3 separate regions of the Homo sapiens genome follow, and regions 2 and 3 are each linked to region 1. The links come from fine-mapping of genetic effects on gene expression. A gene starts in region 1. Each other region holds a variant in brackets. All regions are shown on one strand. Distances are between the middles of the regions. Region 1 holds the start of IL34 (interleukin 34). Region 2 overlaps WWP2 (WW domain containing E3 ubiquitin protein ligase 2). Region 3 has its middle 23 kb from the start of IL34.

Region 1 (2,674 bases):
AGAGAACTAAATCAGAGACGGAATTCCAGCCTGATCTGCAGAGCAGACACAATGGTCCAGACCTTGCAGAGTCCAGAGGGGCAGATGGGAGGACCACGCACACACGCTGAGCCCTGTGTGGTTGTCGAATTTTGGGAGCAGCCACCAGCCCACAGGGTTTGAATTCCTGTCACACTTCTTACAAGCCGTATGACCTTGGACAAGTGTCTTAACCTTTCTGGGCCTCAGTTTCCTCATTGATAAACTGAGATTTTGCACTTCCATGAGATTGTTGTGAGAGATTCAGTGAATGTAAAGACCTTAGTCCTGGCCGGGTGCGGTGGCTCACGCCTGTAATCCCAGCACTTTGGGAGGCCAAGACAGCAGATCACTTGAGTCCAGGAGTTTGAGACTAGCCTGGCCAACATGGTGAAACCCCATCTCTACTAAAAATACAAAAATTAGCCAGGCATGGTAGTGCACATCTGTAATCCCAGCTACTTGGGAGGCTGAAGCAGGAGAATTGCTTGAACCCTGGAGGTGGAGGCTGCAGTGAGCCAAAATCACGCCACTGCACTACAGCCTGGATGACAGAGTCTGAGACTCCGTCTCAAAAAAATTTTTTTTTTCTTAATTTTTTTTTTATTAATAGAACTGAGGTCTTACTATGCTGACCAGGCTGGTCTCGAACTCCTGGGCTCACGCAATCCTCCCACCTTGGCCTCCCAAAGTGCTGGGATTACAAGCATGAGCCATTGCGTCCGGCTTGTTTTCGGAGTGGGAGCTCGTCTGCTTTTTTAACCTGTCCTTTAGCCTGAGTCATTCATGGACTCTACCATGGCTCTCGATGTGTGAACTCAAACCACCTGTTCATTCCTTGGTCCTGCTTTTGTTCAGGCCCCAGGCTGCCAGCTGGTGTCATCATAACTCACTCATGGGCCAGGGCCGTTCGGACATCCTGAAGTCATTTCTCACGTGAGCCGTGTCCAGCTGCCAGGGCCGGGTGGTCCTGTGCAGGCCGTGGGTGCGGTGTGCGCTGTGGCTGATGGCTGAGTGGCAGCGCTGCTCTTACATAATCAGTTTCTCTCCTCCTTTCTCTTCCTAGAGCCAGATTTCACACTGAGCAGCTGCAGTCGGAGAAATCAGAGAAAGCGTCACCCAGCCCCAGATTCCGAGGGGCCTGCCAGGGACTCTCTCCTCCTGCTCCTTGGAAAGGAAGACCCCGAAAGACCCCCAAGCCACCGGCTCAGACCTGCTTCTGGGCTGCCATGGGACTTGCGGCCACCGCCCCCCGGCTGTCCTCCACGCTGCCGGGCAGATAAGGGCAGCTGCTGCCCTTGGGGCACCTGCTCACTCCCGCAGCCCAGCCACTCCTCCAGGGCCAGCCCTTCCCTGACTGAGTGACCACCTCTGCTGCCCCGAGGCCATGTAGGCCGTGCTTAGGCCTCTGTGGACACACTGCTGGGGACGGCGCCTGAGCTCTCAGGGGGACGAGGAACACCACCATGCCCCGGGGCTTCACCTGGCTGCGCTGTGAGTACTGGGGGGTCCCTAGGGACCTGCATTGGGAGGCCTTGGCCTAGATCCAGGATCTGCCGTAACCATAGCAACCAGGGCATTCTTGCTGGTGAGAAGTTGCGATGCTTCCCAGCCGGACTGCAGACACCCTCTGAGATTCCCACGGCCGCCGTCTGCCCTGTCTGCCGCTCACTTCGGGCTCCGACGGGCAAGCTGGGTGGGCAGTTCTGGCTGGGTGGGCATGGTCCTCAGGGTGGTCTTAGGTCGGGGCAGGCACTGGGGGTAGGTGGCAGCATCTCACCTTTCCAGGCTTGTGGGTGTTGGGGAGCCCCGGGCGGGCAGCAGCGGCCCAGTCCTGGGTATGGCCGGTGGAGGGGGGCAGGGGCTGGTGAAAGTGTCTAGGGACCCAAGACCCACGGCAGAAGAGCAGCCAGATGCCTGGAGAAGGCAGCCTGTTCCCCTCCAACCCTCCCTCCATAACAGAACAGAATTAAAAAGCAGAAAGATAACACTGTTGGTAAAAAGAAAAATAAGTTGAAATGAGGACAGAAAGGAAAAAAAGGATCTGGAAGCCTCTTATGCCTGCTGGCTGGGAGGCCAGACCAAGATCCCCTCAGTCTCCAAGATCCAGTTCAATTGACTCAAATTCAACACATTTTTCCGGTGCCTCCCACGTGCCCACTGCAGAGTCACTGCCATGACAACAAGGACCTTGCTGTCTCGTGCCTCTGTCTCCAACGCCTGGCACAGGGTTGAGTGCTCAGGAACTGTTGGAGGTTTGGGGTATGAGCCTGCGAGGGATTGAAAGAAGAGTTGGGTCCACCCTGGCCCTTGTGGAAATATACAACAAAGGGTTGGGACATTAAGGATGGGTGGAAGGACCCAGCTGGACCCAATGTTCTGGAAACCCCTAGGTCATGAGAAGCAGGGGTGCAGCATGGGGGAGGGGCTACTGGAAATGGTCTAGAAGGTGGGGTGGTGGTCACACAGGTAGACCTGGGGTCATGAGGCCCATGTTCCAGGAAGAGGGGCCAGTGTGAGCAAAGGTTTGGCGGTGGGATGGTGAGGCCAGGCTGGGAGCTGGTTTGGACCCGGCTGGCTGAGGCCTTGAGAGCCAAGCAAAGTGTGCCTCCCTCCCCATAGCAGGCAGCCCTGGAGGATTTGAGAGCCCGGCGGG
Region 2 (2,674 bases), 800 kb before region 1:
TAGGGTTTTACCATGTTGCCCAGGCTGGTCTCGAACTCCTGGACTCAACCGATTCTCCTGTCCTGGCCTCCCAAACTGTTGGGATTACAGCCATAAGCCACTGTATCTGACTTATTTTTTATTCTTTTTTATGGTTGTGAAAGAATTCAGGATTCTTAGAAGGGTCAGAGGCTCCTTGATGAAGATTGGGACTGGCTAAGTAGGTTATTGGATAAAAGGAACTGTTGAACAGGAAACTTGACTGCTTTTTTGTATGTCCGGGGCTGCAGCCACAGTTATTCTTCCAGGATACACATAGAAATGCTTAGAGCAATGGTTCTTTGTGCAATTTTCTGTCATGCATTCTGCTTTGGGGGTGGCCCATGGTTCCCTTGTAATGTTGGTTAAGACCTCCTACGCTTAGAGTCCAAATATTATACTTGTTATACGTATTACAAATGACGTAATGTTATTTACTGAAATTCCCATTTTATACCTGTGTTAGTGGTGCAAACTCATTTCCATGGCAACTGAACGTCTAGGCAGGAAAATAGTTCTAAGTATAAAGAGATGAGGGGAGAGGGTTGGCACCTTTGTTTATTGTTTATTGCAATGTGCAAAATCCCCAGATATTTAGAGGACATTTTGAGGAAAATAATCTTAAATGTACAAACTACGAATGTAGTTTGTAAATCTTTATCACTTGCGGAAAGTAGGTGAGTAACTGGCAGTAAAATCTTCCCAAACGAGGCCAGGCACAGTGGCTCATGCCTGTAATTCCAGCTCTTTTGGAAGATCAAAGTGGGAGGATCGCTTGAGGCCAGGAGTTCCAAGACCAGCCTGGGCAACCTAGGGAGGCTCTGTCTCTATAAAAGATAGAAAAATGAGCTGGGCATGGTAGTGTGTGCCTGTAGTCCCAGCTACTTGGGAGGCTGAGGTGGGAGGATTGCTTGAGCCCAAGAGTTTGAGGCTGCACTGAGCTAGCATCAGGGCACTGGGTAACAGAGTGAGACTATGTCTGTAAAAAAAACAAAAAAACAAAAAAACTTCCCAAACAGACCCTAGGGAGGGGGAATAATGCTTTGAAAAATGGAATATGATTTTAGCCAATACCCGCAGCATCTTAAAAGATCCCTCTGAGGACAGCTGTCAGCTTCTCCAGATTTGGTTGTTTTGTGGGCTTATGAGGTTGTGGTGACTGGCAAGTGGCGGGAGCAAGACAAGATGGACGTTTGGATCTTTTTTCCGTACCTTTATTAGAAGCAGAGATGCCATTTCCCC[A/G]TTCTCTTTTCTCCAAGTCACTGTAAAGGCGTTGCCTCACTCCCAAAGACCAGTCATGTTTTCCGTGTCTCGGTAGGTGACTTACAATAGTTGGGTCTCACGGGGTGATGAATGACAGTGTAACTGGCAAATCTTGTGTCAACAAAGCCATGATGGGCACCTGGAACTGGAGGAAACAATTTCTTAAGCTAGAACAGCGGTGGGCGAGGAATACTTGAGCATTTCACTCTTTTAGAGAGGAAGGAATACTTGAGTATTTCACTCTTTAGAGAGTGATGCCTTCTCAGCTTTGGTGCTAGTAACTACATCTTAGTCTTTTAGCTGAGTTGGAAAGTTTGTCTCAAACACACCCATATAACTTAATTTGGGGCTCAAAGTCAGATTCAGCTATTAACAAGTTTGGATCTAAATTCTTGACCTATTTACTGGTCTCTGAATTCCTCTAGTTGATCGACCTTGAAATTCAGAGATCCTGTTAAACCTCGTTTGTTGTCATTGGTGTTGAGAATGACACCAGGTCATCGGTGTTGCAGCAGCCAGGCTGCAACAGGAAATCGGATGCATTTTGGCCCATCACACGTGGTAGACATTCAGTGCTAGTTAGTTACTGGTGAGCAAGGTACCTTCCGATAGTGTAAGCCTTATCGGAGTCCTCTGCAGTCTGTTAGCTGCTGCAGGCTTTTACTACGTGTAGCATCTGAGTTTTCCCTGGCCTCTGCCATCTAAGTAACTATTCATTCTGCACTCACATGGAACCTGTTGCCATTCAGCAGGAAATATTTTTGCAAATATTATCCAAAGGCTGTCTCTTTGCCTCCTTAAAAGCCCCCTTTCCACTTTGCTGTTGCAGGTATGAAGGTCACTGTGCACACATGCTTATGACTGTAGGCGGTGGCCAAGGAGTCTATTGGATAAAGGTGTAGGGCTTTGGAATCAGGAGATGCAGATCGAATCCTGGCCTGTCATTTACTTGCTATATGATTTTGGATAAGTCACAAAACCTCTCGGATCCCCAGTTTTTTTCAGGTGTAAAGTGGGGGTATCACCTGTCTCACAGGGTTATTGTGGGAATGAACTGAGATGAGGCATGTCAGTCAGAGGGCCTTACACAACGGGAGCACTCGGTGGAAGTGGCAGTGGGTTTTCTTTGTATCTGGAGACTCGTTTGTGCATGCCTACCCCCCTTCCCTGCTAAGCCTGGGAAGTGAGGCATTACCGGTGCGTTTACATCAAGGACTGTAGTTGGGAGGTGATGAATCAGACCTTTGGGATCAAGGGCAGTCCTTTGCTGTCCTTGCTTTCTGGGGGCAGAGAGAATGATGGGCTTCTGCCTGCTGTCTCCCAGACTAAATATTTAGCTTTTGCTGTCTGAAGGGTAGGTTTTTCTTGGACTTGGGTGCTATTCACTGTGATC
Region 3 (2,674 bases), 23 kb before region 1:
AAAGGAAATGAGAGGTTCTGAGAGGCGGGCTAGTGGCTTGTACTATAGCATAGCCTGCCTTTGCTGGTGTGTGGCGATTAGGCCTGGTGGAACTGCCATCAATAAATCAAGCGTGATCAGGGTGAGGAACAGGAAAGAAGGAAATTTGGGGAAATGGGGTTAATGTCAGGTGGATCAGAGAGATACAGTCATGGGGGTCAGGTGTGGTATCAGGAATAATGTGGGGGGCCAGATTGAAGTCCGGGCCAGGAACAATGGTAATTGTGGGACTTAAAGAGTGAGTACAGCTGAAGGAGCCGGGGAGCAGAAAGTATATGCTTCAGGTATGAGGAAGAAAATAGATTTTGGAAGTTATGAGAAATGTAGAGAGTGAGTTGAGCATAGTTTGCGATTTTTAGGGCCTCTAAAAGTATTAATGCAGCGGCACCCGCTGTATGCAGACATGAGGGCTAGGCTAAAACATTAAGGTCAAATTGTTTGGACAGAAAGGCTACAGGGTGCGGTCCTGGCTCTTGTATAAGAATTCTGACCACACTAACCATACCTAGGAAGAAAAGGAGTTGTTTTGTAAGGGATTGAGGTTTGGGGGATTAATCGGACACGAGCAGCAGGGGGAGCACCTGTGTTTTTATGAAGAATTATGCTGAGATAGGTAACAGATGAGGATGAAATTTGGGCTTGATTGAAGTAATGGGGGCTGTCTGTGACGCCTTGCAGCAGTACAGCCCAGGTAATTTGCTGAGCCTAATGGGTGTCAGGGTCAGTCCAAGTGAAAGCGAAGAGAGGCTGGGATGATGGGAGCAAAGGAATAGTAAAGAAAGCATGCTTGAGATCCAGAACATAATAATGGATTGTGGAGGGAGGTATGGAGGATAGGAGAGTATATGGGTTTGACACCATAGGGTGGATAGGCAAAACAATTTGGTTGATAAGGCACAGATCCTGAACTAACTTGTAAGGCTTGTCTGGTTTTAGGACAGGCAAAATGGGGGAATTGTAAGGAGAGTTTATAGGCTTTAAAAGGCCATGCTGTAGCAGGCGAGTGATAACAGGCTTTAATCCTTTCAAAGCATGCTGTGGGATGGGATATTGGCATTGAACAGGGTAAGGGTGATAAGGTTTTAATGAGATGGTAAGGGGTGCATGATCAGTCGCCAAGGAGGGAGTAGAGGTATCTTATACTTGTGGGTTAAGGTGGGGGAATACAAGAGGAGGATGCAAAGGAGGCTTTGGATTGGGAAGAAGGGTGGCAATGAGATGTAGCTGTAGTCCAGGAATAGTCAGGGAAGCAGATAATTTAGTTAAAGTGTCTCGGCCTAATAAGGGAACTGGGCAGGTGGGGATAACTAAAAGGAGTGCTTAAAAGAGTATCATCTAAGTTGGCACCAGAGTTGGGGAGTT[C/T]TAAGAGGTTTAGAAGCCTGGCCGTCAATACTCACAACAGTTATGGAGGCAAGGGAAACAGGCCCTTGAAAAGAAGGTAATGTGGAGTGGGTAGCCTCCGTATTGATTAAGGCGACGGACTTACCTTCCACTGTGAGAGTTACTCGAAGCTCGGCGTCTGTGATGGTCTACGGGGCTTTCGAGGTGATCAGGCAGCGTCAGTCTTCAGCCGCTAAGCCGAGAAGGAGTCAGTCAGAGAGCCTTGGGCCAGAGTTCCAGGGGCTCTGGGAGTGGCTGCCAGGTGAGTTGAACAGTCCGATTTTCAGTGGGGTCCCACACAGATGGGACGCGGCTTAGGAGGAATCCCGGGCTGCCGGCATTCCTTGGCCCAGTGGCCAGATTTCCGGCACGTGTAGCAAGCTCCTGGGGAAGGAGGTTCTGGAGGAATACCTGGCTGCTGTGGTTCAGGCATTTGGAAGTTCTTGTGTGCTGGAGATGTGGCTGGGGTTTGTCTCACAGTGGAGGCAAGGAATTGCAACTTTTTTTCTGTTACTGTACACCTTGAAGGTGAGGTTAATTAAATCCTGTTGTGGGGTTTGAGGGCCAGATTCCAATTTTTGGAATTTTATTTAATGTCGGGAGCACATTGGGTAATAAAATGTATTTTGAGAATAAGATGGCCTTTTGACCTTTTAGGGTCTAGGGCTGTAAAGCGTCTCAAGGTTGCAGCCAAACAAGTCATGAACTGGGCTGGATTTTTATATTTGATGAAAAAGAGCCTAAACGCTATCTGATTTGGGATAAAGAAAAAGGAGCATTCACCTTGACTATGCCTTTAGCTTCAGCCACCTTTTTAAGAATAAATTGCTGGACAGGTGGGGAAGGGCTAGTCACTGAACGAAACTATAAGCCAGACAGGGTGTGAGGAGGGGAGGTGATAAAAGGATTATAGGGTGGAGGAGGGGAGGCTGAGGAAGAATTGGGACCTAGCTTGGCCTGGAGAGGAGGGGAGAGGTCAGATGGGTCTGTAGAAAAGGAAGATTAGAAAGACTCAGTGACGCTTGGGGTTGGGACTGAGGGGACAGGCGGGAGGGAAAGAAGGAAGATTTGGTACGAGTTGCATTGGGCACAGAGACTAGGAAGGGACTGATGTGTAAAAGAATGCCTGGACATCAGGCACCTCAGACCATTTGTCTATTTTACAGCAAGAATTATTTAGATTTTGCAGGATGGAAAAATTCAAAGTGCCATTTTTTGGCTATTTGGAACTACTGTTGAGTTTGTATTGGGGTCA

What was found. PIP is the estimated chance that this variant, and not a neighbour inherited with it, causes the effect. A credible set is the group of variants that fine-mapping cannot tell apart.
Region 2: its variant is the best candidate, but not a certain one, in a credible set for the expression of IL34 in pancreas (GTEx, PIP 0.63).
Region 3: its variant is the best candidate, but not a certain one, in a credible set for the expression of IL34 in nucleus accumbens (GTEx, PIP 0.89).

What each region holds. Positions count from the first base shown.
Region 1 is chr16:70,645,464-70,648,137 of GRCh38, forward strand. It overlaps IL34 (interleukin 34), which reads left to right and starts at 1,096. Exons shown (of 6, transcript NM_001393494.1): 1 at 1,096-1,512. The coding sequence starts at 1,485.
Region 2 is chr16:69,842,857-69,845,530 of GRCh38, forward strand. All of the region lies in intron 6 of WWP2 (WW domain containing E3 ubiquitin protein ligase 2), which reads left to right. Among named protein-coding and RNA genes, the nearest start is that of WWP2, 82 kb to the left of the region's middle. The variant A/G (reference allele first, on the strand shown) is at 1,261.
Region 3 is chr16:70,622,449-70,625,122 of GRCh38, forward strand. It overlaps a transcript of IL34 not described here. Among named protein-coding and RNA genes, the nearest start is that of IL34, 23 kb to the right of the region's middle. RefSeq lists an enhancer at 1-127. The variant C/T (reference allele first, on the strand shown) is at 1,402.